7 linked regions of the Homo sapiens genome follow. The protein of the gene in region 7 purifies or fractionates together with the protein of the main gene of each other region. This does not show direct contact. Each region holds a gene or a part of one and is shown on either strand. Other genes may lie near its edges. The genes, in order: ZNF638, PHF10, LBR, YBX3, PRDM10, ZCCHC9 and BHLHA15.

Region 1 (3,871 bases), on a different chromosome or scaffold from region 7:
CCTGACATCAAAAGACTTTTATAGCCTAGTTAGACTAATGGAATGTCAGTTACTAAATGCACTAAGTCTGTCTTGACTAGAATGATGTGGGAGAGAAGACTTCATGGAGTAGGTTGAAGATGGGTCTTGAATTGAGGCTTTAGATATGCCTGTATAAAGAGGAGGAGGGGGCCGGGCACAGTGGCTCACTGCCTGTAATCCCAGCACTTTGGGAGGCCGAGACAGGTGGATCACCTGAGGTCAGGAGTTCAAGACCACCCTTACTGACATGGTGAAATCCTGTCTCTACTAAAAATACAAGAATTAGCCGGGTGTGGTCATGCGCACCTGTAATTCCAGCTACTCAGGAGGCTGAGGCAGAGAATCGCTTGAACCCAGGAGGCAGAAGGTTGCAGTGAGCCGAGATCGCGCCGCTGCACTCCAGCCTGGGTGACAGAGCGAGACTCCATCTCAAAAAAAATAAAAAAAATAAAAAAAAAAAAAAAGAAGAGGAGGGTTGGCGGCAACAACATACAGAGAGGCAGAGGTCCGGAGAGAAGACTACATTTCATTGTGGTAGGAGGCAGTTGGGAAAGAGTGATGAGCGTATTAGAAATAAGTACGAAAGGCTTTGAAGAGCTAGCCTAGGAGTTTAGACTTGAGGTGAGAGGCATTAGAAAGCTAAATAAGTTTGTTGATAAGTGAAGTGACATGTTGGAAGTATATTTTAGGGAGATCTGACTGAAGTATGCAGGGTAAATAGAAATGAGATGATGTGGAGTAGGACTTCCACTTGGAAGCTTCTTTAATTGTTCAAGTATAAGATGGTAAAAACCTGGGTTAATAGGATAAAAGTAAAAATTTGAGAGGAAAGGAAATCATTTAGTCATCATTAGAGCTCACCTAGATAGATTGCCATTAAAAAACAGACACACCTTTTAACAGCACAACAGAATGGGGCTCATCTAAGTAATGAATTTTTCACTACTAAGTGGCCAAATGATAGGGATTTGTGAAGATGGATTTCGATGGTACACACTGCCTCTCGTTTCTGTGATATATTTTGCAGCCTCGTAAGTGTTCCTGTGTGTGTATATATGACATAAATATGAAGCCAATAAATGTAAATTACCAATTGTAAACTTTTTCCTATTGAGTAAATCTGACAATATGTATATTCCCCACCTTCGAGTCTTTGAAACTATAGCTGTGAAGATGTACTTTGAGAACGTGAAATGTATTTGCTTGTTAAATTGGGGTTCAGATTTTAAAGGAGAAACTTCCCTTGGTTTAGGAGCTGTGTCATAATGACTGAAATAATTCAGTTTGAGAAAGTACCGACAATAAAAAATTGTTGAGAATAGTGAGTGAGCCCTGATACGAGTAGTTATATATTTTCAGTTTCATTCTGAGCCTGCCTAATTCTGTGCAGTCCTTGCAGCATCTCCTGCTAGTAGGTAATTATCACTTTTTCTCTGGGGAGGCAGTGCTGCTTTTGGACTATAATGTGGAAACTATTACTAGAGAGTCTAGAAGTTGGGGTGGGATGGGTGTGTTTACTGAGCTTAAAGCAAGTAATGTCAATTTGTGAAGCAAGCCTAAGAATGTGTGTATGTGTGTTGAACTGAGAAGAGTATATCTTAAATAGGGCAGCCATCATCTTCAGGTGATAGTTGCTGTAAGAATGATATCCTGTATTACTGTATCTTCCTATTTTTTCAAGAAAAGCTGGAAATCTGGACTTGCGGGTAAAAATCTCTGGATTATTAAATGTTGGCAACGTATTCAGATAAAACACTTTATGGTTCAAATAAATCATGCCCAACCCACTGCCTGCACCAGTGTGTCTGTTTGATGTAAACAGTGTCCAATTAATATTAAAAATATGGGTTTTAGTACTACTAGAGACTCTTCTTCTAGCTTTCTATTTGTATTATTAAACAGGATGTACAAACATTTCTTTTTTGTAGTCCACAATCAGTTCCATGGCTTAATGAAATAGTTTAGGATTTGTCATACCTTGTTGCTGAGTTTAAATTGATGCTGAGCATTGCAAATCAGTGTACCTTCTTTCAGATAGTTCTTGCCAAGGCAGAATCCAAAATTATTGTCAACCGTGGTTTTAACTGTGGAAACTTCTAATGACCTAAACTAAAATGTATTTCAAATGGAAACAAATAATAACATTTTCCTTAAGCAAAGTGTTGAAATACGAAGTTATTTAGTAAGTTTTCTGCCTTTCCAAATGCTGGAGGAACAGTAAAACATTGAGTAACATACATATTGCTTTTAACTAATTGTTTCACCTTGGAAACTGTATCTTTGTAAACTGTATTGGCTTTTTTTTTTTTTTAACCAGATGTATCTTCCAGAGTTATTTATGGGTACACATTGTAATTTTAGGACAGATTTATTTGTAAATGAAGTAATGTATAAGAAAGCATTTTGGGCTGGGCATGGTGGCTCACGCCTGTAATCCTAACACTTTTGGGAGGCCGAGGCAGGTGGATCACCTGAGGTCAGGAGTTCGAGACCAGCCTGACAAACATGGTGAAACCCTGTCTCTATTAAAAATACAAAAATTCACCAGGCTTGGTGGCACATGCCTGTTAATTCCAGCTACTAGGGAGGCTGAGGCAGGAGAATCACTTGAACCTAGGAGGTGGAGAGTGCAGTGATCCGAGATCGCCTCATTGCACTCCAGCCTAGGCAGCAAGAGTGAAACTGTCTCAAAAAAAAAAGAAAAGAAAAAAAAAAAAGAAGCATTTCGTTAATTGTAAAGCTCAAAGCTCTATATGTAAGGGATATTGTATCTTTGAAATGTTGTTACTTTTAAATTTTGAAAATAGATTTGATCAGTAGCATTTTTCCCCATGTTTTTCCTAATCTTATTTGCCAGTATAGTGAGTACCTTGTATGGAATGGTACTGGTCTATCAGGTAGCATTTTTATTTTATTTTTATTTTTATTTTTATTTTTTTGGAGACAGAGTCTCGCTCTGTCGCCCAGGCTGGAGTGCAGTGGCGCAATCTCGGCTCACTGCAAGCTCCGCCTCCCGGGTTCACGCCATTCTCCTGCGTCAGCCTCCTGAGTCGCTGGGGCTACAGGTGCCCGCCACAACGCCTGGCTAATTTTTTGTATTTTTAGTAGAGACAGGGTTTCACAGTAGTGTCGATCTCCTGAACTCGTGATCCGCCCTCCTTGGCCTCCCAAAGTGCTGGGATTACAGGCGTGAGCCACTGCGCCCGGCGGCATTTTTTGATTGTTGATGTTGTTAGCGTGAATTTTAGAGGTATTTGTCATTGAAATATTGTATTTTGAAGATGCTGTTTCACAGATACCGTTTTACTTATAGATTTTTTGGTGTTTTCTGGTGTGTTGTTTTTATATTTGCAGTAAGTTTTTTCTGATCCATGCTTTTATTTTCTCCAAGTTTATATATTGATTTCAAAATGAGCATCCACGGGTATGATTTTGAAAATGTTTTCTGTACTAAAATATTTTCAAATGGGATCAGTGAGGTATGGTATTAAGTGCATTTGTTTCAAGGCCTTTAATTTTTGTTTGTGAAAATTTTACTGAGCAGCCAAATGCTATTTATGAGTACGTTTGTTTAATTTTTGAACAAAATATTATTTGTCTTTTTTAAAAGCCTAATTCATTAGTCAACATGAGGAATATTCTAATTTCAACACTTTTCTCCTTTTACAATAGGATTGGATTCAGCATCAAAATACATCTACTCATATTGAGAGCTGTCGACAGTTACGTCAACAGTAAGAATATATTTTTCCTTTATTATAGATAGCATATTTACAAAATAGTTAATGTTCAGATGTGACTGTTAAATACCTTTAGTATAATACTTTGGAGAAAAATATTTTTGGAAAGC
Region 2 (3,871 bases), on a different chromosome or scaffold from region 7:
AGTCAGTGTTTCTCAAACTCTAACCTGCACATGAATCACACAGACATCTGTTAAAATGCAGACTCTGAGTCATAGGTCTAGAGTTGGGCCTGAGATTCTGCATTTCCAACAAGCTTCTGAGCAATAACAGTGCTTTGGACCACGGAACATACCCTGAGCAGTGAGGTGCTACAGAACCCCCAGCATCTGTCTCTAACAAACCCAAACAGAATGGGCAGAGACAGAGGCATCTAGACTTCACCAGCATATATTCAAATTCTGACTACAGGGTATTGTTTACCACAGAACCAGAGAAGAATAGCAACACAAATCCTATACGATATCTTACGGTGATATCTATAGACCCCAAAATTGTTAGGAGGCAAGTACAAAAGGCTCTGAAACCCCTTACCAATAGCCGATACCAACTGTAACTAAAACTACTAAATACCTCTTATAATATTCCTGGAACTGTCCGGGGATGAGAGCCACTGGGTAAGAACTGACCTTTGTTCGCTCTGTTGGCAAAACTTTGTACTTCCCTTGAGGTACCTGGATAACCTACGTTAACATAAAGAGAAACACAAAACTGATTCCATGCTAAGAATCAAGGCTTTAGGAAGAGTCCCCACGTGCTCACCACTGCACGCCCACTTCCCCCTCGAAAAGCTAAAATTTTAGGAGATATCAGGAGCTATAACCTAAGAGGACAGTTGGTGCTTTCAGTTCTATATATTATTGTTTTAAAGGCCTATTCTCCTGAGGAATGGCAGTGGATCTCTTGCTCACTACTTAACAGCAGAGTGATCTGGGTAGCTTATACGACCTCTCTGTAGCTCAATTTCTTTATGAAATGGAAGTAATCCTAGTTCCAACCTCACATGGTTACTATGAGAATTAACATGCAAATCTCTTAAAAACTCTTGGGACGCACAGCAAGTATGATATGTAGCTATTATTAGTCTCATTTAGAATTATTAACCGTAAAGCAAAAGACATCTCACAAAAAAATGTAAATTGAGTATTATTAAGCACACCATTAAAAATAACATCTCAACTTCTGAGGAAAAAAAGAACACGCAGGTGTCAGCATGGCCAACATGGTAAAACACCATCTCTACTAAAAATACAAAAAATTAGCTGGGTGTGGTGGCAGGCGCCTGTAATCCCAGCTAATGGGGAGGCTGAGGCAGAAGCATCGCCTGAACCCGGGAGGCGGAGGTTGCAGTGAGCCGAGATCATGCCACTGCACTCCATCCTGGGCTACACAGACTCTGCCACAAAAAACAAAACAAAACAAACAAACAAACAAAAAAAACACACACACATAGGTGGTACAAAAAATAACGATAAAGGGGGTGATGGGCACTCTGCAATAACAAGTAATAAACTAAGTTCAGGGGGTACTAAATTTAAGTTATCCTACATGTGTCTGCAAGTCAAAATAAGCTCTTCTTTCTTCCATGCGTTCCCGGTTTAAGTTGCTATTAAATTCTGCTGCTTTTTTGGCAGCTTTCTTAATATACTCAGGCACTTTACTGGCTTCAACTTTCTGAGTATTCTGTTGTTGCATTTGCTGGAAAAAAAAAATACAGTTGGAAGTCACATATAACTTTCTAAAATGTCATTTTCCCCAACCCAAATAAAAAATGCCAGTCACCTCAATTACTTACGGAATACTCTTTATAATGGTCTGTAATTCGTTGACGTTCTTTTTCTTGTAGAATAACAGAATACTCAGCATGTTTGGCTGGATATTCTTTTATCATTAAATCAATCACTTCATCACTGCGCAATGCTGTTAAGCCTATTTTAGACCAAAAAATAAAAAAATAAAGAAGCTCTTTTAAGGATAAGTGAACAAAAGCACTCTTCAAAATTTAATTCTTCAAACCGCTCCACGTTGTAATGGTTTTCCAATAGCCAAAGCAAAATATCTTAGTACATTTGAAAATAATTAAACTTAATATTCACAATATAAACTCGAGCAATCAAAAGATTATCTTGCAAAAGGCAAATATATCAATTTTTCAACCAAACAAGTTTATTTTTAAGATTCTATGTGCTTTGAACATATATCCCTTTAGTTGGAAACAACTGTTAAATAATGAAATGCACTAACTACTAACAAGTACTACAGAATACTAGATGAATAAAAAAAAATTCAACATATTATAGTTCCCAGTCTTCAAATTCCATACACAAGAAATATTACAATCAATTAAAATTTCACCAAAAACATCAGCACACACACACACACCATGGAGACAATTTTCAAAACTCACAGTATCAGATTTCACCAATTGCTAAAATGCATTCCCAAGAATTTATATAAAAAGTAGCCATGTTGCATTAAAATGTTTGTGAAAAAAAGATTACAAATAAAGCACGGACATAATTATACAGAACTAAAAATTGAAGAAAATTTGCCTTTTTGCATTTTAGAGATGTGGTCTCGCCATCTTGCCCAGGCTGGAGTGCAGTGGCTATTCACAGACATGATCACAGCACACTACAACCCCAAAGTCCTGTGTTCCAGTGATCCTCCTCCCTCAGCCTCCCAAGTAGCTGGGACCACACGCACACACCATGCACTTAGCAAAGAACCTGCAACTTAAAAAAATATATTGTACAAGCTTTGTACAAAAAATACAAACACTCTGAAAACTCTGTAAAAATTATTAGACAAGGGCTGGGCATGGTGGCTCATGCCTGTAATCCCAGCACTTTGGGAGACCAAGGTGGGTGGATCACAAGGTCAGAAGTTGGAGACCAGCCTGGCCAACATGGTAAAACCCCGTCTCTAATAAAAATACAAAAATTAGATGGCTGTGATGACATGCGCCTGTAGTACCAGCTACTCGGTAGGCTGAGGGAGAATTCCTTGAACCCGGGAGATGGAGGTTGCAGTGAGCTAAGATCGCGCCACTGCATGCCAGCCTGGACAACAGAGAGAGACTCTGTGTTAAAAAAAAGAGAAAAATTAGACAATTATACTCTGTTATAGAATAGAGGTTGATCCTTGACTTGCAATGGGGTTACATATGATAAACCCATCCTAAGTTGAAACTATCCTAAAAAGTAAAAGCATTTAATACATCTAGCCTACCAAACATCTTTGCTTACCCTAGCCTAACTTAAACATGCTCAGAAAACTTACATTAGCCTACAGCTGGGCAAAATCAGCTAACACAAATTTTAATATAAAGTGTTGAATATGTCATGTGACTTGTTACATATTATACTGCAAGTGAAAAGAATAATGGTTGTATAGACACTTGAAGTATGGTTTCTACTGAATATGCATTGCTTTCACACCATCATGAAGCTGAACCATCATAAGTCAGGAACCACATGTGTGTTCAAGCTTCATTCTCCTGTGTATTTTAACAATAATCAAAAATGAAGTAAATAATGTAGCATTTAAATAGTTCAATTTATTTTATTAATTTTGTAAAATATTTTAGGAAATAAGATACTTATCTAGTATTATCTCATAAATGTTCAGCTTGAAAAATTCACATTAAAAAGCTATTCTTACCTAGAGTGCACTGAGTTTCAGTAATGACATTTAGCTCTCTCAGGTAGAGTTTCTCCTTGTGAGACAAATCTCGTCGCTCTAAATCTCCAAAAAAAAGATCAAAAGACTATTAAAAACAGCAAAACCTTATGCACTTGTAAAACTTTTAAAAGCTTAAAAACCTTGACTTTTTAAAGTATTCATATTACATATTCCAAATATTATTAAAGGGGCTACAAAAAAATTTATAAATTCAAGAAATAAAACTCAGCAAGATACAAAAGTTAGAATAAAATAGGAAATAGAATAATCCAAAGCAAGAAGGTCATATAAATAACTATACTAAACTAGTTCATGAGGAATAGCCTTTCT
Region 3 (3,871 bases), on a different chromosome or scaffold from region 7:
AAGGTTTTTACAGTGTATAAAAGTTCATATCATGTATGAAATGGTAAGACAAACCTGTATTACGGAAACATTCTTACTCTTAGCATCATTATACTTTATCACTTTACCTATTCAAAGATGATTTTAGTGGAATTACTTTCAAGATGTAAGCTTTGAAATATCAGGGTGCATGGAGCCTGTAGATCTTGTACAAATAGTATTTTAGATAGTAGACCAAAGACAAAGTATGTTAAGTAAAAAGAATAAAAGTAATCTTCTATTCACTTAATGTTAACCTCTTTTCTGGATAGAAGGCACACAGACTTTGAGACAGAGTCTTGCTCTGTCACCCAGGCTGGAGCGCAGTGGCGCAATCTCAGCTCACTGCAAGCTCCGCCTCCTGGGTTCACGCCATTCTCCTGCCTCAGCCTACCGAGTAGCTGGGACTACAGGCGCCCACCACCATGCCTGGCTGATTTTTTGTATTTTTAGTAGAGACAGGGTTTCACCGTGTTAGCCAGGATGGTCTCGATTTCCTGACCTCGTGATCCACCCGCCTCGGCCTCCCAAAGTGCTGGGATTACAGGCGTGAGCCACTGCGCCCGGCAACAGACTTTTAATAAACTTTAAAAACTGGATTATATACATACTGCTCAGTAGTCAGCTTTAAGACATTTTAAAATATTGGGATAACCTTTCAGAGTGTATTTTTCTACATCATTTTTGTTGTTGTATTCTATAGTATGGATATATGGTAAATTGTATACATGTAACTTAATCGTTAAAGTCAGCTCTGTCAATGATAGACATTTAGTGTTTTTCCTTCCATATTTTCACTATTACAAACAAGTATTTTTATGTAACATCTGATTATTTCCTTAGGATGGATTCTTACAAGTGGAACTGCTAGGTCAGCTGTATGGTGCAGATTTGAGGCTTTTAATACATATTGCCAGATTGCATCAAGAAAGTTTATAGTAGTATCAGTGTATGAATGCTCAGTTTCTCATTCTGAGTATTATAATTTTTTTTTTTTTTTTTGGAGAATGTGGCTGTCAGACATTTTCAACTTACTGTTCTAACTTATATTTTGAATTAGAACATTTTAACTATTAGTGGCTCTCTTTACCACCCCGGGACTCCAGGAACAGATGCTGTGTGATACTTTGTTATCCTTTCATTTTTAATATTTAGTGACTGCTATATTTTTACAGTGTAATCTTACAGTCCTGGTGTCACAAGAACCACAGAAGCTTTGCCTCTTACCTGGTAGTGCCTTGGGCCTACTGTGTGTTGCATAAGTACCCACTATTTCTTAGTTTTCCATTATGGGCTATTTTGGAGCAGTGAATGTCTTTTTGAATGTCTTTTGTTTTTTATCCAGTTAATGAACTAATTTACCAATTTTTACTTTCTCTGCCTTTCATAGTAAATACCCCTAAAATCTATCAATGAAATTATGACATTCAGTCTGATTACGTGAAAGATCAAAGTTGTTTTTTTTTTTTTTGAGGCGGAGTTTCATTCTTGTTGCCCAGGCTGGAGTGCAATGGCGCGGTCTTGGCTCAATGCAACCTCCGTCTCCGGGTTCAAGAGATTTTCCTGCCTCAGCTTCCGAAGTAGCTGGAATTACAGGTGCCCGCTACCGTGCGTGGCTAATTTTTTTGTATTTTTAGTAGAGACAGGGTTTCACCATGTTGGCCAGGCTGGTCTTGAACTCCTGACCTCAGGTGATCCACCCGCCTTGGCCTCCCAAAGTGCTGGGATTACAGGTGTGAGCCACCGTGCCTGGCCAGATGAAAGATTTTATGTAGAAATCTATCCAATATTTCAGAGACTGGGAAATTCTAGTCAGTTTTATTCCTTTTCATTTTTAACAAAATGAGGGTTAAATTCGTCAGAATTAAGGCTGTGAAAAATCTGTTTTATTGCTTGATTCCAAAACAGTAAGTTTTTACCATCATGTTTCTTTTTAATAAGTTACAGTTCTTTTGATTAAATGTTTATATTCTTCAATTTAGAAGCCATTTGGAAATAGCATCAGCAGATATAATGGGGAGCCTGAGCATATTGAGAGAAATGACGCACCTCATAAAAATACACAGGTGGGAAAGTGTTCCCTTTCATCTTGGTTGTTTTTTTTTTTCTTTTTTTTGGTTAAAAGTGACTCTCCCTTGAGAAGCACATTGAAAATTGTAATATTTTATAACCTGTTCTAAAATTCTGTCCTTAAATTAAGACTGAATATAATTTCACAAATTTATTCTTACTAGTGTATAGCTGTATTGAGATGCTGAAATAGTTAATGCAGTAGCATTAATGGTAATTGTTCACTGCAGATATTTAATTTTTAAATTTTTCATTTAGGAAAAATTCAGTTTGTCACAAGAAAGCAGTTACATAGCAACACAGTATAGCCTTCGTCCAAGAAGAGAAGAAGTCAAATTAAAAGAAATAGATTCTAAGGAAGAAAAATACGTTGCAAAAGAACTGGCAGTGAGAACCTTTGAAGTGACCCCCATCCGGGCAAAGGACTTGGAGTTTGGAGGAGTACCTGGTAGGCCTCAGAGCTGGGCCCAGAGAGGGCAGGTGGGGTGAGCTAGGGGTGGTTGCCACAAGGTGAACTGGAAAGGCCTCTCTGAAGACATCTGAGGCAGGCAAGGTAATGAGCCTGGTGGGAACCTGTGGAAGAGCCTTCCAGAGAAGGAACAGTGGGTGCAAAGGCTTGAGGTGGGAGCATTTTGAGGGATTATGGAGTAGAAAGGATGCCATTGTAGCTGTGTTTAAAACTTTTAGCAGTCTGTTCAGAGGTTTTGAGCACAGAAGTACAAAGAAGTGATAAAGGAAGGTTGATCTGGGAGTTTGTATAGCATAGATGGTTACTTATCAGGGACAGAGAGCTCTGCTAATAGTCAGACCTGAGGCGGCAGGGGCCAGCAGTGGGCCTCAGCTGCCTGCATAAAATGGGATCCCGGAGGCTGCCCTACCTGCTAGGCGGGTTGATTGTGAGGGTCAAAGATCTGAAGTGTGCAGAGTTTTGGAGTTACTAAGTGGGTGGAACTGATGAAATTTTATGAGCTAGTAAAAGAAAAGACTTCTTGTCTAAATGGCTCAAAATCCTGCATGGCTTAATTGCTTTGTATTTTGTTATAACCTTTGGCTAGCTGGCCTGTTACAGATGCTGTCCAGCATCACTTAAAATCTGCACACATTACATGAACGTGACACTATTTTAATTGTTAGAAACTGAGGAATATAAAGTTTTTTGTTAAGATTAGGCTGATAATTTTTAGATGTTCTGATCTTCAGTTTGCTGGAGTTTCAACACATTCGCTCCTTAGTGGTTGGAGGTCAAATGTTTTAGAGCTTGGTTTCTGAGGTGGGTGTAGCTATTCAATGTTGGACCTCTTTCTTTTTTTTTTTATTTTTATTTATTTATTTTTTTTACTACTTTGATGCCCATGGTTGCCAGGCCACCAGAGGTGACAGGTAGAGATGGGAGTTTTTGATGGTACATTAGAAATTGGTTTCAGACAGTTAGCCAGATAACGAGTTCTGATCTTAACAAATCTAACATGATTCTTAAATAAATAAACCAGATTGAAATTTGAGCCTCGAATGTTCATGAATTGTTTGCAGGTGTGTTTCTCATCATGTTTGGCCTGCCTGTGTTCCTCTTCCTGTTGCTGTTGATGTGTAAACAGAAAGATCCCAGTCTTCTGAATTTCCCTCCTCCTTTGCCAGCTTTGTATGAGTTATGGGAAACCAGAGTATTTGGGGTCTACCTCCTGTGGTTTTTGATTCAAGTCCTGTTCTACCTACTGCCAATTGGAAAGGTACGTTTATGGTAATTCTGTTTTGTTTTAATAAGATGAGGTCTCACTATATTGTC
Region 4 (3,871 bases), on a different chromosome or scaffold from region 7:
GTTCTGGGACACACCAACGATTAAAGATTAGGAAGATGAGGATTGTCTAGCAAAGGACAGTGAGAAGGAGCAGCCAAGGAGAATGTATTTCAAGAAAGAAATGTGTTAAATGCTTGTTGATAAGTAGAGATTAAGCTGAGAATTGATTATTAGATTTGGTAACTTGGAGGTCAGTGGTTTGGTGAAGACAAAAGTTTAAATAGAATGAACTTAAGAAACAGCAAAGGGCGGGAAGAGGAGACATATTCCCCATTGAGGTTTCTGTAGTGGTGGTCATGGTGTTTGGTTTTTCTTTAGTATGTATGTCTGTAAAGAAATGGGGTAGTAGCTGGAAGAAGATAAGGGATCAGAGCAAGATTTTTGCTTGATTTGATTTGCTTTTTACAATGCAGAGTTACCCCTGGTCTCTCCCTTACCCGTTACCTCACCAACAACTTCTAAAGCCATTAAATGGGCAGATCAAGGTAGGCACGTGTGTTTGCCATAAACCCACATATATATATACACACATACATAGACACACATATATGTGTAACATTGTGTGTGTGTGTTCCATGGTTCTGTCTACTGAAAGGTCCTGAAAGCCGTGATATCTTAGTAACAGCATTGAGCATACCTGTCCCCCAATTTTTTGTTTTTAAATAACATTCTCAAACAAAAAGAATTCCCTTTGGAGAAATGGCTGATTTCAGAGCTGGGACAGAGAAAGTATAATATGAGCCTGGAACATCTTGTTGTGCCAGAAAGCGAAGAAGTACTCAAAGAATGTTGGAAACACATCAATAGGATATGAGCCAGCTTGAAGGGGTTCCCATTGGCCAGTAATGATAGTAACAGATTACAACTCATTGAAAAAAATAGAAAACCATGAGTCCATACAAATATAAATAAATAAACCAATATATTGAAAAATTTGATAACGAATAGTATATTTATGCACTTTGTAAGTACTTCCTCACAAAGTACTCATTAATTACAAAGAAGGAAAGAGTCAACTTACAGTGGAGGACTCTGGTGGCAGATACCACCTTAACCACTTATCAAAGTGAACATTATCAGTAATGGCACAAATTGAAACTATATGCCACCTGACAGGATGCAGTGAGGAGAATGCAGTGTCACTTTTGTGACATCCCCCTGGGGATGCAAAAACAATATCTAATCATTAGTGAACACCAATAACCCAAGTTGAGGGATATTTTACAAAATAACTGGTTTGTAATCTTTAAAGAAGTATCAGGGTCATGAAAACCAACGTGGTGGCTCATGCCTGTAATCCCAGCACTTTGGAAGTCTGAGGTGGGTAGATCACGAGGTCAAGAGATTGAGACCATCCTGGCCAACATGATGAAACCCCGTCTGTACTAAAAATACAAAACATTAGCTGGGAGTGGTGGCACATGCCTGTAGTCCCAGCTACTTGCGAGGCTGAGGCAGGAGAATCGCTTGAACCAGGGAGGCAGAGGTTGCAGTGAGCTGAGATCGCGCCACTGCACTCCAGCCTGGCGACAGAGTGAGACTCCATCTCAAATAAATAAATTAAAAAAAACTGCTCCAAACAAAAAGATATAACTTACTTTAGTGCATAATTCTAAACGGTGTTTTTGCTATAAAGGGCATCATTGGGATAAATGGTGAAACTTGAATGGGATCTGAGAATTACATTTAACTTTTCTGTAACTTTGTGCTTATTTCAAAATTTTAAAAAATTGAAAAGGATGGGTGCTATTTCACTGGGTATATATGCTTGGATGGAAATGATAGAAAAGGTGAAAACATAGTGAAGGGATAGCGTTAACATGCTGTGTCTAGTTGATGAGAATAGAGAGGCTGTTGGTTTCAGATATGAACTTGGACCACTTACCCAGGGTAATGGGAGAGAAGAAAATTCTAATGTAAATACAGGGAGCTGGGTAGATTTGCTAATGAGAACGTGGAAATTGTCTTCTGACTGTTTCTCTTTCTTGATGAAATAATGAAGGACAGTATTTGGCTCTTAGGGGGAGGAAGGGATGTTTTGAGAAAAGAAAAGAAAGTTGAGTTATGGCTGTATGGTCAAGAATTGCAGACATTGTTGGTGGGTTTTTTTGTTTTTTTAAGTTGTTCTTTCTTTCCCCTGGAAGTTGTACAATAAGTTAATTTTATTCCACTGGCTTAAAGTAAGTTTGTTGTAAAGAAAAATAAAAGAGTATTTTATTTAAAGAGATGAATGAAATGTATCCGATTTCAAAATGTTAAATTGATAGGCGAAAATAAAGTTAGGTGCTCTGGGACTAAGCAAATGAGTATTCTAGTCAGACTAGGTTTGTCTTCCTTTTCAGTCGTTCACGAAGATTTACTCATAAATAGTTTGTGTTGCAACTGAGAGTGCCTAATTTTGTAATGAAGCATTTTGTTTTTTACTTCTAAAAAAAATTCTGAACATAGCTGTATGCACTGTATCTTATCCCCTGTGCTGTGACACTCACTGTCAGCTCTCATTGCCTCTCCAGGCTGGTGAGATTGGAGAGATGAAGGATGGAGTCCCAGAGGGAGCACAACTTCAGGGACCGGTTCATCGAAATCCAACTTACCGCCCAAGGTACCGTAGGTATGTCGCATTTTCCACTAATGGCCAGTTAAAGGACTTGTGTGCACAATGGTAGAATGAGGACTGTGTGGTTCCGTTTTGTGGATTTATTATATATCTAGAAGATGTGAATGCTTTGACTACATGCCAGAGTTTTCAGGTGGTGGTGTGACATTTCCCACCTACTTAATACTAGAATTTTTAGTTATCTCTGCGCCAAAGCGTCATTTTGTATTCTGGAATTATAATAAGATGTAAATTAATACTTAATTTTTATCAAAATAAATCAGATAAATTATTGGTGGGCAATTCTGTGGTAATGCTGCAGATGGAGGAAGAATTGAGTGTCAGAGGATATTTGGGATAGTGACTGTTAATCACTGAGGCAGTCCAGTAGAGGGGTTAAATCAGGGTATGATCAAATCGCCTGAATTTATCTTCCTACTCTACAGTTCATTAGATGTATGTTCTTGGACTGCATTCCAGCCTGCGCAACAGAGTGAGACCCTGTCTGAAAACAAAGAGATATTCTATAGTTGGGGATTAAAGGTACTAATGCAGCTAAGATAATTAGTGTGGTACCTGATAAAGTAAAGGCCTCACTATGTATTAGATATTATTACCACCATTGAGGTTAATATTAGTGAACGCTGGGTTATTCTATTTGTGCTTTATTCCTTTGGAAGACTGAATTAGGCTAGACTCCTTCCATAAGATCCCTTTGAAGCATTTTATAATATAAGCCTGCCCATTCTTTTATCTTACCCTTTGTGGTAAGTGGAAAAGCTACAACTTCTTCCTGAATGATGTTTATGCTACCTTGAAATTTGTCAGTATGGCTTTATTGAAGGATAAAAAGTATATTATATTGGGAAAGGATTCCACCAATATAATTGTAAAAGGATCGTATCCTTTTTCTTCACAAGGTTCCCTCCAGCTTTAGGCATAATCACTAATGATTAAGTACTAGGGACTTTGAAAATAAAAGAGACGGCATAGAAATGTCTTACTGGAACAAAAAGGATTCAGTAGCGTGTGAGGCTCAGCTTTGTCAGTCCCTGGATATGTGATCTTGGAAAGTCATATTTGACCTTTTTTAACCTATAAAAGCAGCACTTTTATATAGCTCAGCCGTATACTTTATCATGTAAACCTCTTGGTTTTCTTGTTATAAATCTCATCCACAGAATTACCATTCAAATTAAATATTTAATTTTAAAACCGACTAGCACAGGCTCTGGCACATAATAATGTTTCTTCTCATGTTTAATTCCCTTAGTCTCTGCTAAATTCTGTTCATGG
Region 5 (4,671 bases), on a different chromosome or scaffold from region 7:
GGAACCACAGATGTGTACTGCCATGCCTGGCTAATCTTTTTGTTTTTTGTACAGAGTCTCACTATGTTGCCCAGGCTGGTCTCGAACGCCTGTGCTCAAGCGATCCACCCGCCTCGGCCTCCCAAAATTCTGGGATTACAGGCGTGAGCCACCGCACCCTGTCACGAAGTTTAAAAAAAAAAAAAAGCTCTCTTTTCTTTCCACGTTGTTTCCAGCTATTTAAAGAAACAAAATGGTAGACTAGACGCAGTGGCTCACATCTGTAATCCCAGCAATTTGGAAGGCCAAGGCGGGAGAATCACTTGACGTTAGAGTTTGAGACCAGCCTGGCCAACATGGGGAAACCCCATCTCTACTGAAAATACAAAAATTAGCCGGGCGTGGTGGTGCATGCCTGTAATCTCAGCTACTAGAGAGGCTGAGGCAGGAGAATCGCTTGAACCCGGGAGGCAGAGGTTGCAATGAGCCCAGATCTCACCACTGCACTCCAGCCTGGGCAACAGAGCGAGACTCCGTATCAAAAAACAAAACAACAAAACAAAACAAAAAACAGTAAAGAGAATACTATTGAGTTAATTTTACAGTTTTTCACGCTGTGGGTGTTTTCTATTCTCGTCTTTTGCTTAGCTGTCCTGTCTCCCTCTTTTTCTCAGGCAATAGTTTAGGATTTTTGTAAGTTATATTGTCAGTACTTCTCATTTAAGTTCCAGACAGTGTGCTAAGCAAAGCACTTTACTCGGTAAAGTAAGAGCTCACTTAATCTTCAAAATAACGTAGCAAGGTAGATATCACGAACATAGCAAGGTAGATATCACCGAAGGGAAAACCGCTCCCCGAAGGTCCGAAGGTCCAAGGTCTCTCTGCCATCTAGCTGCCCTGCGTATTGCCTGCCAGTGGGTAGTTGGAGCTGGGTATCTCTCCAAAGCTGGGCTCTTGGCTGCCCTTTGTGAAGGCAATTTTAAGGGACAGCAGGATGTGGAAGCCTGCGGTTAAGGAGTGAGCTGAGTCACTGGGTAACCAGTGTTGAATAATGTTTCTCAATGTCTGAAATGACACTCACTTCCTTTCCAGATTGGTAGAGGAGAAAAAAGAGGCGCAGTGAAAGCGCTCTCAAGGTGCGGTGGGTCAGGGTGATAGGCGGCGCCCGGCCGCTCCCTGGGGGTCCTGAGGGCGAGACCCCGGCAGGCTCCCGACTCCGGGAGCCGGGCGGGAGTTCGGTTTTCGCCGGCGCTCCACGGCCAGGCCACTTCGGAGGCAATCTGTGGCGGGGCGGGCGGACGCGAGGGCCGCCTCACCCCCGCGCGTCTTCCGGGACACCGGGCCCTCGGGCGCGCGGGAGGCGGGCTTAGCACGGGCGCAGGCTGCCCTCGGCGCCCGAGACACCCAGGCACAGCTGGAAGCTTCCTCCCCGTTAGCACGCGGGCCGCAGCGGGGGCTTGACCCCAATGCGAAGAGTCGGGTTTTCTGATTGGCTGAGAGTAGAAACGCAGGCGAGCGCCGCCTGAGACCCGCTCTGCGATTGGGTTTTACACGAACAGCAGAGCACGAAATAAAGAGGCCTTCAGTCATTGGGCCATTATGTGAATCTCCTTTTGGCTTCTCTGCAGACTGAATAAGCGTCTCAGGATCTTCGTCATGACTCCTAAATCTGGGCCTGTCAGTTCGCCCCAGCGTTTCTCGTCTCTAGGCACGGCATGGGGCTTACAGAGTTTAACCAATCATATAACGTCGAGATCAGGTTGCCAGGCAGATTATGCTAATAAGACCCCGCCTTTTATGCTGCTCCCACTCTGCGGCGGGAAGAACCACCTGGAGGTGGCGGGGGGGGTTGATTTCTATCACCCCTAGGGAGAGAGGATCGGGGACCCGCTGATCTTCCAGCTCCCCTCACCCAACGTCGTGTAAGTACCTAAAGGATTAAGGGAACCAGATAAGCCAGGGTCCAGACTACCCCATAGACTGGGAGGGTGTTTCGTCTTTGCTTAGTCCCACCCAAAATGGCGCCCAGCTCTTTCCGCGTCTCAGAGCCCGGCCGGGGCCAACCGACCGCGGACCCGGGTGGGGGGGGAATTGATGGTGGTGGTGGGGGGGAGAAATCCCGGCGGCACCGCCCGATGGTACAGTCCAGCCGGGGCTGGGACGAGGCACCTCACTCGGGGTGGGGGGTCAAACCATCTGCACCTTCCAAGGGGAAGAGGGCAAGGCCCCCTCCAGCAGGCCCTCCTGGCGCCGCGTTCAGCGCCGGCCTCGGCGTCTCGTCGCCCCTGCCTTCGCCGCGCGCAGCCTCCCCCTGCGACCCCCGAGTGGCTCGCACGCTCCGCCGGCCGCGCGCACCTCTCCTCCCCTGCCCGCGTTGGTTGGGCCGGGACGGCGGTTGGGCGGCCTGCGCGCTCCGGCGGCGGCGGTTGCGCGGGCGCTCCGGGCGCGGCGGGCAGGTCTCCGCCGGCCGGGAGCCGAGCACCGGGGGCTGGGGGCCGGGCGCCGGGCTGGGGGTGGCAGTGCGGGCAGGGCTCCGGGGCTGGCCGGTTGCGGGCGCGTGGGGCGGAGGGTCCTGTTCGATGGGGCGCCCAGCTTTGTCTGCGGAGGCCGCGCCGCCCACTTGCCATCGATGGCTGGGCCCCCGGCCTGCCTTCCCAAGCTAGCGTCCGGGACCGGGGCGGGGGGCCGGCCCGCAGGGGTGTGGGGTGGCCCCTGCGGGTCTGTCCCGTGGCACCGCGTCGGGGCTGGCCGGGCGGAGGCGGAGGCCGAGGCCGGGGTCGCGGCCCTGCCCCAGTCCGCCTGCACCCAGGGTGCAGCGCAGAGGCAGGGCGAGGCCGGTCGGCGCTCGGGAGAGGGCTGATGGTGTGCACCTCTCCAGCCCCTCGCCAGCTTTTGTTAAGCAGGTTTAACCCTGCAGCTAGGTGTTGATACTCTACTAAGTAAAATGGAATATTCCCCGTCTGCCCTCCAGCCACGCGAACGCAGCGCTGTTGAATTTGTGTGCGCGCCTTTAGCCTTGCTTGGTGGATGAGTTGGATTTTAGTGCATTTTCAATCAATGTGCGTGTACACTTAAGCACAAGGAGAGGTGGCTTTGTGCTGTCATCGAGGATTAGATGTGTGATGAGACCCACCCAGCTCTGCCCTGTGCCCTAATTCTGCTGCTTTGCCTGTTGAAACCTTGCCTGTCTCGTCACCCCAAATTCTCTAAACTTAGCAGTACTTAACCTTTATTAAAAACAGCAGAATCACTCATGACTGTTTTGTGGCCTCTTTTTCTGACCTGTTCTCTTTGTTTCTATCACTCCTCCATCGCTGTAAGGCAAGAAGGTGTATTATTACATTGTATTTTTTTTGTATCTTCCTACCATTCCAGCATCACAATAGCTTCCACTTTGATGAGCAGTACTTATTTGTTGTTCTAGAATAGAGAAAACAAGATTTTTTTTTAAAATTAGGATTGGTTGGGGGCAAAGCAGCGTTTAAACAGTGTTTATTCAATATGGGGTATTTAGAAAGGAACTTTGCTAGGTTTATTTAGGAGACAGGGTCTCTGGTTGCCCAGGCTAGAGTGCAGTGGCGCGATCTTGGCTCACTGCCGACTCGACCTCCCGGGCTCAAGGGATCCTCCTGCTTCAGCCTCCCTAGTAGCTGGGACTACAGGCGTGCACCACCACGCCTGGCTAATTTTTCTACTTTTTGTAGAAACGGGGTTTCATCATTTTGCCCAGGATGGTTACGAACTGCTGAGCTCAAGCAATCCTACCGCCGCAGCATCCCTAAGTGCTGGGATTGCAGGCATGGGCCCCCGCGCTCGGCCTTTAGGTTTACTTTTACAATAAATTGAGGTGAAGTTGACACAGAATGAACCATTTTAAAGTGAACAGGGACGTTTAGTGAAAGGATTACATTTTTGTTTGTTTTGGATCAAGACAAATGTCTTGTGCCTTCTACCCCGTAAGCTCCCACTCTGCTATGCTGTTCCTCGTTTTGCAAGGCAAAATTGTTTTGCTTTTTCAAAGAATTCATTTTTAGTTTTTCTAATATTTTGTAGCATGCTCCACCACATATTAATCATATATTGTATGTCAATGTAATTGAGTATATATTTTAGAAAAAGCAAGGTTCCTGTCTTCAAGGGCTCTGAATGGTTTTTACTTAGAGGTTATGGAGGTATAAAGGATAGCACAACTCAATATAATCCCAAATTGATTGGCACTACCTAAGTTTCTGCTTGCCTGTTTTGTTTTTCCTTCTAGTTTTAAGAATAATGCGTGATCATTGGAGAAAACATAAAATTTAAGCCGGGCGCTGTGGCTCATGCCTGTAATCCCAGCACTTTGGGAGGCGAGGCGGGCAGATCACCTGAGGTCAGGAGTTCGAGACTAGCCTGGCCAACATGGTGAAAGCCTGTCTCTACTAAAAATACAAAAATTGGACGGACATGATGGCAGGCGCCTGTAATCCCAACTACTCGGGAGGCTGAGGCAGGAGAATCACTTGAACCCGGGAGGCAGAGTTTACAGTGAGCTGAGATCGGGCCATTGCACTCCAGCCTGGGCAACAAGAGCGAAACTCCGTCTCAAAAAAAAAAAAAAAAAATTTAGAAGCGAGTGAAAAAAAACAAAACCCATAATTACCCAGAGATAATCTTTGCTGATACTTTGGTGTATTTCAAGTTGGTTTTGTGTGT
Region 6 (4,323 bases), on a different chromosome or scaffold from region 7:
ATCGCCTAACTCAGGAGTTTGAGACCAACCTGGCCAACATGGCGATATCCCATCACTACTAAAAATACAAAATCTAGCCGGGCGCGGTGGCGGGCGCCTGTAATCTCAGCTACTTGGGCGGCTGAGGCAGAAGAATCGCTTGAACCCGGGACGCAGAGGTTGCAGTGAGCCGAGATCGCGCCATTGCACTCCAGCCTGGGCGACAAGAGCCAAACTCCTTCTCAAAAAACAAAACAAAACAAAACAAAAAAACAAATACGCAGTGAGCACCAAGGATGTACCAGGCAATGAGGATACAATAAACTTACACAATTATTGTGTAATTACAAATGTGAACCGTGTCATAAGAAAGTATAGACTGCCGTGAGCACACAGTAGGGGATTGGTCTAGTATGGGGGTAGGGGGCTGGAAGGCTTTCTTGAGAATAAAATACTTAAAGCCTTGAAGGGTGAGTAGAAAGTAACTGGAAGAAGAAAAGGAGTACCATACAAAGAGACTAGCAAATGTAAAGGCCTGGAGATGGCAAGGTACACACGGCATTTGAGAAATTGAAAAAATGATCCTATGCACGGAGCTCAAAGGAGAGACTGAGCAAGGTGAGGCTAGGGAAGTAGGCAGGGACTTCATAAGGAGTTCGAATTTCATCCTAAAACAATGGGAAGCGAAGGGAGAGTTTAAAGCAGTACAGCAGTACTGCTTTAAATGTAATGATTTACATTTTCAAAAGTTCCGTTCCTACGACACGGAAAATGGATTTCAGGGAGTTGGGGCAGAATGAATCCCCAGACCAGTTGTAGAACTACAGGTACAATATGGGACAAGGGAGGAGGTGCCAACAGAGATAAAAAGAAGTGGACAAATATTCAAAAGGTTAAATGGATTGAGCAAACTGTTGAGAGTAGTGGTCCTGGTAAATTGCATTTTTTCACTAGGCACAGCTGGTGGTGGTATCCATTTGCAAGAAGCTACAGAAAATGAGCCGTTTGGAAATCCAGGGTTTTCCTCTTAAAAAGAGAACTTGTTTGGCTACAAAGTGTTAACATTTTAATTGAATGCTCAACGAGCACTGAAGGGGGGACATGAGGCACTGCCTCTCACCCAAGAGAGCCCCCAAATGTCCTTTTCAGACTTTTATCACAGTGACCCACTCCCACCGCGCCTTTACCTTGCCTCTGCCTGGAATGTCCTTAACTCCCTCTTGCCGGCAATTTCACCAGATTTTTGATTTCTTATCCAGTCTCACGGGAAGCCTTTCCGGCATCTCCCACCCTACCGATCTTCCCGTCTATCTCGCCTGCTACACTGTGAGTTCAGACAGCACGGATTGAACTCTTCATCTTTTCGTGTCGGCGTCCTGCACAGGGCCATCCCATCACTAAGCGCGCCACAAACTCAGCCCAGTATTGACGCCCACGAGTCGCTTGTAAAGACCGTCTGTGACGCCGGAAGTGACGCGCTCTCGGGCACTATGTGCTTCCGGTCTCCAATACCGCAGGAGGGCGGTCTTCCCCGGCTCGCCAACTCGGCTGCTCTGGGGGATTCGTGCGCGGTAAGAAGCTGCGCGGTAGCGCGGTGAGGTGAGGTTCTCAGCCACCAAAGCTGCAGGGTCTCGTCGTTCGTTCCCTCTGGCCTGGCGGAACTTGCGTGGGAAGCTGGGAGGACAGAAGGCTTAGCCGCTGGGTCCCTGAGCTGGCTGGAGCGCGGGCTGTCTAGGGGCGGCGACCTCAGCTGTTGGGCTCCGGCTGCTGGGGGCTGTGCGTCCAGCCGCCCTGGAATCCGCCTGTGGGTGGGCCGCTTGGCTCTCCCACTTCACCCTCTTGATAACCCAGAGCCTCCCCCTTCCCACGTACGTAGGGGAAGGATAATCTACTTCCTTTTGAACAGCTTCGGTCCCCACTATGACAGTCGCATAAACTTCAGCGAAGAGTGCGCTGGTAAAGTGGCATGGAGTTTCTCACACCAATTCATTGGGTCCACCCTTCAGCTTCTGTGGAAGGGGTCTTTCTGTTACTAGGAGCTGAGACTTGGGGGGTTGCCAGGGATGCTGGTCTTAAAAGGTGATAATTTAGGCCGGGCGCGGTGGCTCACGCCTGTAATCCCAGCACTTTGGGAGGTCGAGGCGGGCAGATCTCCTGAGCTCAGGAGTTCGAGACCACCCTGGGCAACATGGTGAAACCCCTTCTCTACTAAAATACAAAAAATTAGCTGGGCGTGGTGGCACGCGCCTGTAATCCCAGCTATTCGGGAGGCTGAGGCCCGAGAATCGCTTGAGCCCTGGCGGCAGAGGTTGCAGTGAGCCAAGATCGCCCACTGCACTCCAGGTTGGGCTACAGAGTGAGACTCCGTCTCAACAACGACCACAACAACAACAAAAAAGGTGGTGGCTTAATACAGCCATGCTCCCCTTAAGAACTGGTATAGTTATGAGAAATGGTTGGGCCGTTTCGTGGTTGTGTGAACATCATAGTGTACTTGCACAAACCTACACAGCTGGGCCGTATGGGATAGCCTGTTACTCCTAGTCTACAGACCTGTACAGTATAACTACTAAATACTGTAGGCAGTTGTAAAAGGATGGTGTGTATCTAAACACAGAAAAGATACTGTAAAAATATAGTGTAAAAGAAAACATGGTACAGCTGAATAGGGCACTTACGCATGGAGCTTGCAGGGCTGTCGGTAGCTATTAAGTGAGTCAGTGAGTGGTATGTGAGTGTGAAGGCCTACGATATTATTTAGGGTATTACTGTACACTACTGTAGACTTTATAAATGCGGTATGCTTAGTCTAAGTTTATTAAAAATAAGGTAATAACCTTAGCTTACTGTGCTTTTTTAACTTTATAAACTTTTAAATTAATTTTAACTCCTTGACCTTTTTTTTTTTTTTTTGAGACGGAGTTTATTCTCTCTGTCTCTCATTTTTGAGACAGAGTTTTGCTCTTGTCACCCAGGCTGGAGTGCAGTGGCGCAATCTCAGCTCACTGCAACGTCCACCTCTTGAGTTCAAGCGATTCTCCTGCCTCAGCTTCCCAGGTGGTGCGCGCCTGTAGCTGGGACTACAAGAGTGCGCCACCACGCCCAGCTAATTTTTGTATTTTTAGTAGAGATGGGGTTTGACCATGTTGGCCAGGATGGTCTCGATATCCTGACCTTGTGATCCACCTGGCCTTGGCCTCCCAAAGTGCTGGGATTACAGGCGTGAGCCACCATACCCGGCCCACTCTTTTGTAATAACACTTAGCTTAAAATGCTAATGTGTTGTATAGCTATATAAAAATATTTTCTTTATTCCCTTACATTATTCTATAGCTTTTTCCTGTAAAAATTTTTTTTGTTGTTATAAACTAAGACACACACATTGTGCCTACACCGGGTCAGGAGCATCAATATCACTCTTTTCTTCCTCCACATCTTGTCCTACTGGAAGGTTTTCAGGGGCAGTAACATGAATGGAGCTGTCATCTCCTATAATAACTGCTTTTTTCTGGAATACTTATAATTGTCTAGTATTATGTACAGTACATCATTGTAAGCATTATGCTTGTATATGACTGGCATCCCAGGTTTGTTTACACCAGCATTACCACAGACATGAGTAATGTGTTACACTACAAGTTATGAGGGCTACAAAGTCAATAGGAATTTTTCAGCTCCATTATAATCATCTGAGACCAGTATCATGTGTGCAGTCGCTGTTGACCTAAATGTTATGTAGCATGTGACTAGCTGATGAATCTTTGATTATGGCTGAATGTTCTCATTCATTGCAGGAAAAAAATATCCTCCAAATCACTAGGTAGTATGTAAGTGACCAAAACTTTTTTCCATTTTATGTTGGAGCCAAATCATTAGTGTTAGGATAAATTACTTCTTTATGTATGTGCTCTAAAATGAAAAGTTATTTCTGAATATTAAAGCATATGTATTAAGAGTATAAAAACAAGATACAGATTTTGGTGTGAAATATATCTTATGATTCAAGTCATAATTTAAATAGAATTGAAGATGATGTGAAATCACTGGGCTGGAAGTAGCTTATACCTTGATTAGTAAGAGGAAGCCCGGGATCATCCTGTGATGGTAAACACTTTTATATGTTTTACTTATAACTTTGCCAGGAAATTTCAACAAACTTCATATTAAAGGACATGATTTCTGTATACTTAGTAATCTGCTATGCAAATTGTTGCATTGAAATGGCAGACGAAGCAAGAAGATTGGGAGAAAGTAGCTGTGGGACTTGGAGATAGGAAAATAAACAGCCGGGAAAACTGCAGAATGTGGGAGGAATAATTGCATTCATTGTATTACTATCTGATT
Region 7 (4,350 bases):
GGTGTTACCTGTGTCCTTACGTGGCTAGGCCTGACCCCAAGTGCCACAACCCCCAACTTGGGGAGGGCAGGGCCACCTGGTGGGGACGGGCCAGCCAGAGCCCTTGGTCTCAGCTGTGGCAGCCACATCCCTGGCCCGGCTTGGCCCTGAGGGCCTTTGGGACATCTCTGGGCAGAGGCATGAGGGAGGGGAGAGTCCAGTAGCCAAGTCCGGCAGAGCCAGTGGGGCAGGAACGCCCAGCAGAAGGAAGCTGGGCTTGGGGCAGCAGAGACGTGCCAAGCCACCAGGCCTGGCCATGAGGATGAAGCACCTGGGCGGGGGAAGGGACGTACCTGCCACCCCAAGGCTCCACCAGGCAGAGAGACCCAACGGGCTGCCAACTCAAACCAGAACCCAAGCACGTCATAATGTCCTACAGACAGCATGGTGCCAATTATATGATAACCCCACATCAGTGAGAATAAGTAACGGCGGTGGCAGGGGCTGGGTGGGGGGCACACTCGCTCCCCACACAGGCCAGGGCTGAGCAGGAGGCCTCAGAGCTGCTCTTGGGGAGCAACCCAGGGCCTTGGGGCTTCTCTCCCATGCCCAGAAGGGCTGCACCAGGAACACCCAGCCCTGTCTCCTGCTCCAGTTCCACAGCACCCCTCACACCCTGCCCCAGACCCTCCACAACCAGGCACAGCCTGGAGTCAACACATCCAGGAGCCCCAACTTGGGAGGAGGGAGGAAGAGACTCCAGCCCCTCCCCACCATTCAACTTTTAAGGATGAATTGGAGGTCATCTGATTAGAGTTTCTGGCAGCTCCAATCATCTCTGATTGGCCCCACTCCCCGAGCAGCCTTAGGCTCTGCCGGGCTTGTCCCGGGCCTCAGTTTACCCCAAATGAGGATGCTGAGCCCAGGCCCCATGTAGCCCTATAACAAAGGTTGGAGAGGGGGTCCTTGCTGGGGCTTTGGCCTTGGAAAACCTGCAGGTAAACCTTTTCCTGGGATCTCCCCTTGCCCAGAAGTCAGGGTGAAGAGACGTTAGTTCCAAGGCTAAGGAGGCCTTTCAACTCGGGCTGAGACTGCCTGGCTCAATGAAAAATCAGGATCCAACTGGGCCCTACCTAGAGGTTTGGGCCTCACGCCGCTGTCCAGGGCCACAGCCGCAACTAGGCCACTCGCTGGTCCCCAGCGGGGCAGGAAAAATTGCTCCAGGGAAGTGGCTGAATGTTCGGGGGAAAATGGAACCGCTGAGGCCGTGTCCTTGTGGGGTGTCACCGCCCATCTGGGGCTCGTGGCTTGGAGGGACTGGGGCTGGGAGGAGCAGGCCAGGCAGCTGCGGCCACCGCCACCCCCACCCAGGACTGGGCGCTAGGTGCCCTCTCGGAAGCTGTGGATCTGCGTGGAGTACCTCTGCAGGTGGCCCTGGGGCTGGGCCTCCGTGGCCCCCAACGCACCCCCAGCCACCTGCTGCTGCTGCTGGTAGTGCTGGTAGAGCTTGGGGCCCGGCCCCTCCAGGCCTGGGAGGCGGCTGCTGGACATGGTCAGGATGGTGGCCGTCAGCGATTTGATGTAGTTCTTGGCCAGCGTGAGCGTCTCGATCTTGGAGAGCTTCTTGTCCGCGCGCACGTGGGGGATGACTTCACGCAGGGCCTGGAAGGCGTTATTTAGCTTGTGCATCCGCTGCCGCTCCCTCTCGTTGCTCTCCAGCCGCCGCTGGATGCTGCTGTCACGACGGCCACCGGGCCCGGAGGGTCCTGGCCGCCTGCGCCTGCCCTCGCCCGGAGCCCTTGCTGCGGCCCGGGCCGGCCGGCTCCGCAGACCCTTGGCCGGCTCTGGCCCCGGGTTCGGCAGGGACCCGTCGGGCGTCCCCTCCCCGGGGGTGGCCTCTGTGTCCTGCACCGGGGCCCGGCGCCGTGGGGGCCGGTTCTTGGTCTTCATGGCCCTGGACTGGCTGTCCTAGGAGGTGGCGGCAGGAAGGTGAGGCCCTTGGAGCTGAAATCCAGAACACAGGACACTCTGTGGTCACCCCACATGGGCAGGGGACCCGCTGGGGTGCCGTCCCTGGCAGCCTCCTCCTTGCTGACAGCAATGGTACCAGGGGCAGGGGTTGGCGCTCTGCGACTGGAGGTCCTTCTGTTCACACGCTTAGCCCTGGGCTGACCCCACACACACCCACGCCCTTGCTTTACCTCAAACAGACCTCTGGAATCTGTCCCTGTCCCTGCGTCCCCCTTCCCCCAGGATGACTCATCCTGACCCCTAGATCTTCCTCTGGCTCATGCCCCTCACTGCCCCCAGAGTGCCTCCTGAGCTCGGTGACCTTTGACACTTTGCCTAGAATGCGTCCCCCACCCTAGCTTAGGGGGCGCCTCTGCCGGAGGCGGCACTGACTTCATCCCGTGGGCGGGCAGTGACTCCAGCCACCAGGCTCTCACTGTCCTGCCCCGCTGGACGTGACACGTGCAGGGACAGCACTGGGGCCAGAACCGCTGCGGACATGGGACAGCACTGGGGCCAGAACCGCTGCGGACATGGGGCAGCCGTGGAGGTCAGAGGTCGGCAATGGCCAGGGCCTGGCGGCAGCCCCCAATCCCACCACGTGGATGGGCCCCGTGGAGCCTCCAGACAGACCAGAAGTCCCCCACCCGGGTTTCCCCACAGCCCCCACAACCCCCACAACCCCACCGCCAGGTCCTGCCCCTGGGTCCCCTCCCCGCGGCCCCACCCGAGTTCCCAGCTCCCGGGTTACCTGGGGATCCGCGGCCACACGCGCCGAGGCTGCCCACGGGGGACAAGGACACGTCGCTTTAGCCGCCCCGGGAGGGGCCGCGGACGCATGCAAATGAGCCCTCGGGGCGGGGCCGGGGCGGGGCCGGGGTCCGGGTGTCCCGGCGGGCGCTGGGCAGCAGTGGCGGCACCTGCGGGCGGGCGGGCGGGAGGCCGGCGCCTGGGGCTCCCGGACCAGGTGGCCGCGCAGCCCCGCCCCCAGCTTCCGCCCCGCCCCCAAGATAGAAAACCTCCCCCGCCCGCCTCTCCCCATCCTCCCCCTACTGCCCCCCACCCTCGTCCCCCAAGACAGCCACCCCCGCCCGCCTCTCCCCACCATCCCCCGACAGCCCCCGACCCTCGTTCCCCCAGACAGCCTCCCCCACACGCTTCTCCCCATCCTCCCCCGACAGCCCCCCAACCGCCCCGAGATAGCTTCCCCCCATTCGTCTCTCCCCATTCTCCCGCTACAGCCCCCCCAAGACAGCCTGCGTCCCCACCTCCCCTACTCCCGTCCCCCGACAGCCTCCCCACAACCTGCTTTTCCCCATCCTCCCCCTCAATTTCCACTCGCGCCTTTCCCACCCGCCTACCCCATATCCGTGCCCGAGACAGCCTCCCCCCGCCCGCTTTCCCCGACCCTCCCCCTGACACAGCACCCCCGCATCCATGCCTCCCGCGATCCTCCTTGCCCGGCCTCTCCACTCGTGGCGGGGCCCGGGCCCATTCCGCCAATGGGAAACAGGTCTCTGGGAGCCGCCGGAAGGAGGGGCAGCCCCGATTCAGGCTCAGCACACAGATCCCAAGTCCCAGGAGCACTCCGGGACGAGCCGCTCCGCGAAAACGCGGGCATCTCCCAGGGGATCCCCCGCCCCGCCGCCCGGGATGTTTAGGGGAACCTGGGGCTCCTACGGGCTGGGGGCGGAGCCCGAGTTGGGGTGGGGGTGGGGGGCTCCTTGGGCAGGTGTGCAGTCCTTGGGAACGCCTGTTTTGTTTGTTTGTTTGTTTTTGAGACGGAGTTTCGCTCTTGCTGCCCAGGCTGGCGTGCAATGGAGCGAGATGATCTCGGCTCACCGCAACCTCCGCCTCCCGGGTTCAAGCGATTCTCCTGCCTCAGCCTCCCGAGTAGCTGGGATTACAGGCATGCACCACCACGCCCAGCTAATTTTTGTATTTTTAGTAGAGACGGGGTTTCTCCACGTTGGCCAGGCTGGTCTTCAACTCCTGACCTCAAGTGATCCACCCGCCTCGGCATCCCAAAGTGCTGGGATTACATGCGTGAGCCACCACGCCCAGCCAAAGCAGCATCTTGCTCAGGGACTATTCGGGGCTGCTAGGGGTGCGGTGACTGCACGCTGCTGGGGGTGCGGTGAGTGTCACGCTGGCTGGCAGGCCTGGGCTCCACACTCATGGGTCTCGCCGCTCTGTCTCAGTACCTCTGGGTGGGAACTCAGAGGGGCCATAGTGGGGCGGGGGGCGGGCACAGAAAGGCTAGCTTGGAGCCAAGGTTAGTTAGTTCTTCTCTTGGCCTAAAGCTCATTTGAGGCTGGGCCAAATGAGGTCCTTGGAAATGAAAATGCTTCCGAAATTCAT

What was found.
Region 1: the proteins of BHLHA15 (region 7) and ZNF638 purify together in Homo sapiens (affinity purification with mass spectrometry; 2 studies listed by BioGRID and IntAct, with this or other methods). This does not show direct contact.
Region 2: the proteins of BHLHA15 (region 7) and PHF10 purify together in Homo sapiens (affinity purification with mass spectrometry; 2 studies listed by BioGRID and IntAct, with this or other methods). This does not show direct contact.
Region 3: the proteins of BHLHA15 (region 7) and LBR purify together in Homo sapiens (affinity purification with mass spectrometry; 2 studies listed by BioGRID and IntAct, with this or other methods). This does not show direct contact.
Region 4: the proteins of BHLHA15 (region 7) and YBX3 purify together in Homo sapiens (affinity purification with mass spectrometry; 2 studies listed by BioGRID and IntAct, with this or other methods). This does not show direct contact.
Region 5: the proteins of BHLHA15 (region 7) and PRDM10 purify together in Homo sapiens (affinity purification with mass spectrometry; 2 studies listed by BioGRID and IntAct, with this or other methods). This does not show direct contact.
Region 6: the proteins of BHLHA15 (region 7) and ZCCHC9 purify together in Homo sapiens (co-immunoprecipitation; 2 studies listed by BioGRID and IntAct, with this or other methods). This does not show direct contact.

The regions. Positions count from the first base shown.
Region 1 is NC_000002.12:71,352,026-71,355,896, forward strand, and holds part of ZNF638 (zinc finger protein 638), read left to right. Parts: intron 1-3,693; coding exon 3,694-3,755; intron 3,756-3,871.
Region 2 is NC_000006.12:169,714,303-169,718,173, forward strand, and holds part of PHF10 (PHD finger protein 10), read right to left. Parts: intron 3,605-3,871; coding exon 3,521-3,604; intron 1,787-3,520; coding exon 1,653-1,786; intron 1,556-1,652; coding exon 1,406-1,555; intron 541-1,405; coding exon 431-540; intron 1-430. UniProt on the Homo sapiens protein: Involved in transcription activity regulation by chromatin remodeling. Belongs to the neural progenitors-specific chromatin remodeling complex (npBAF complex) and is required for the proliferation of neural progenitors.
Region 3 is NC_000001.11:225,417,928-225,421,798, reverse strand, and holds part of LBR (delta(14)-sterol reductase LBR), read left to right. Parts: intron 1-2,000; coding exon 2,001-2,084; intron 2,085-2,346; coding exon 2,347-2,536; intron 2,537-3,618; coding exon 3,619-3,815; intron 3,816-3,871. UniProt on the Homo sapiens protein: Catalyzes the reduction of the C14-unsaturated bond of lanosterol, as part of the metabolic pathway leading to cholesterol biosynthesis.
Region 4 is NC_000012.12:10,702,770-10,706,640, reverse strand, and holds part of YBX3 (Y-box-binding protein 3), read left to right. Parts: intron 1-2,492; coding exon 2,493-2,590; intron 2,591-3,871. UniProt on the Homo sapiens protein: Binds to the GM-CSF promoter. Seems to act as a repressor. Also binds to full-length mRNA and to short RNA sequences containing the consensus site 5'-UCCAUCA-3'. May have a role in translation repression.
Region 5 is NC_000011.10:129,999,952-130,004,622, reverse strand, and holds the start of PRDM10 (PR domain zinc finger protein 10), read left to right. Parts: upstream 1-1,787; 5' UTR 1,788-1,901; exon of another isoform or gene 1,902-1,999; intron 2,000-4,671.
Region 6 is NC_000005.10:81,300,121-81,304,443, forward strand, and holds the start of ZCCHC9 (zinc finger CCHC domain-containing protein 9), read left to right. Parts: upstream 1-1,466; 5' UTR 1,467-1,578; exon of another isoform or gene 1,579-1,935; intron 1,936-3,089; exon of another isoform or gene 3,090-4,083; intron 4,084-4,323. UniProt on the Homo sapiens protein: May down-regulate transcription mediated by NF-kappa-B and the serum response element.
Region 7 is NC_000007.14:98,209,889-98,214,238, reverse strand, and holds the start of BHLHA15 (class A basic helix-loop-helix protein 15), read right to left. Parts: upstream 2,801-4,350; 5' UTR 2,741-2,800; intron 1,984-2,740; 5' UTR 1,930-1,983; coding exon 1,360-1,929; 3' UTR 1-1,359. UniProt on the Homo sapiens protein: Plays a role in controlling the transcriptional activity of MYOD1, ensuring that expanding myoblast populations remain undifferentiated. Repression may occur through muscle-specific E-box occupancy by homodimers.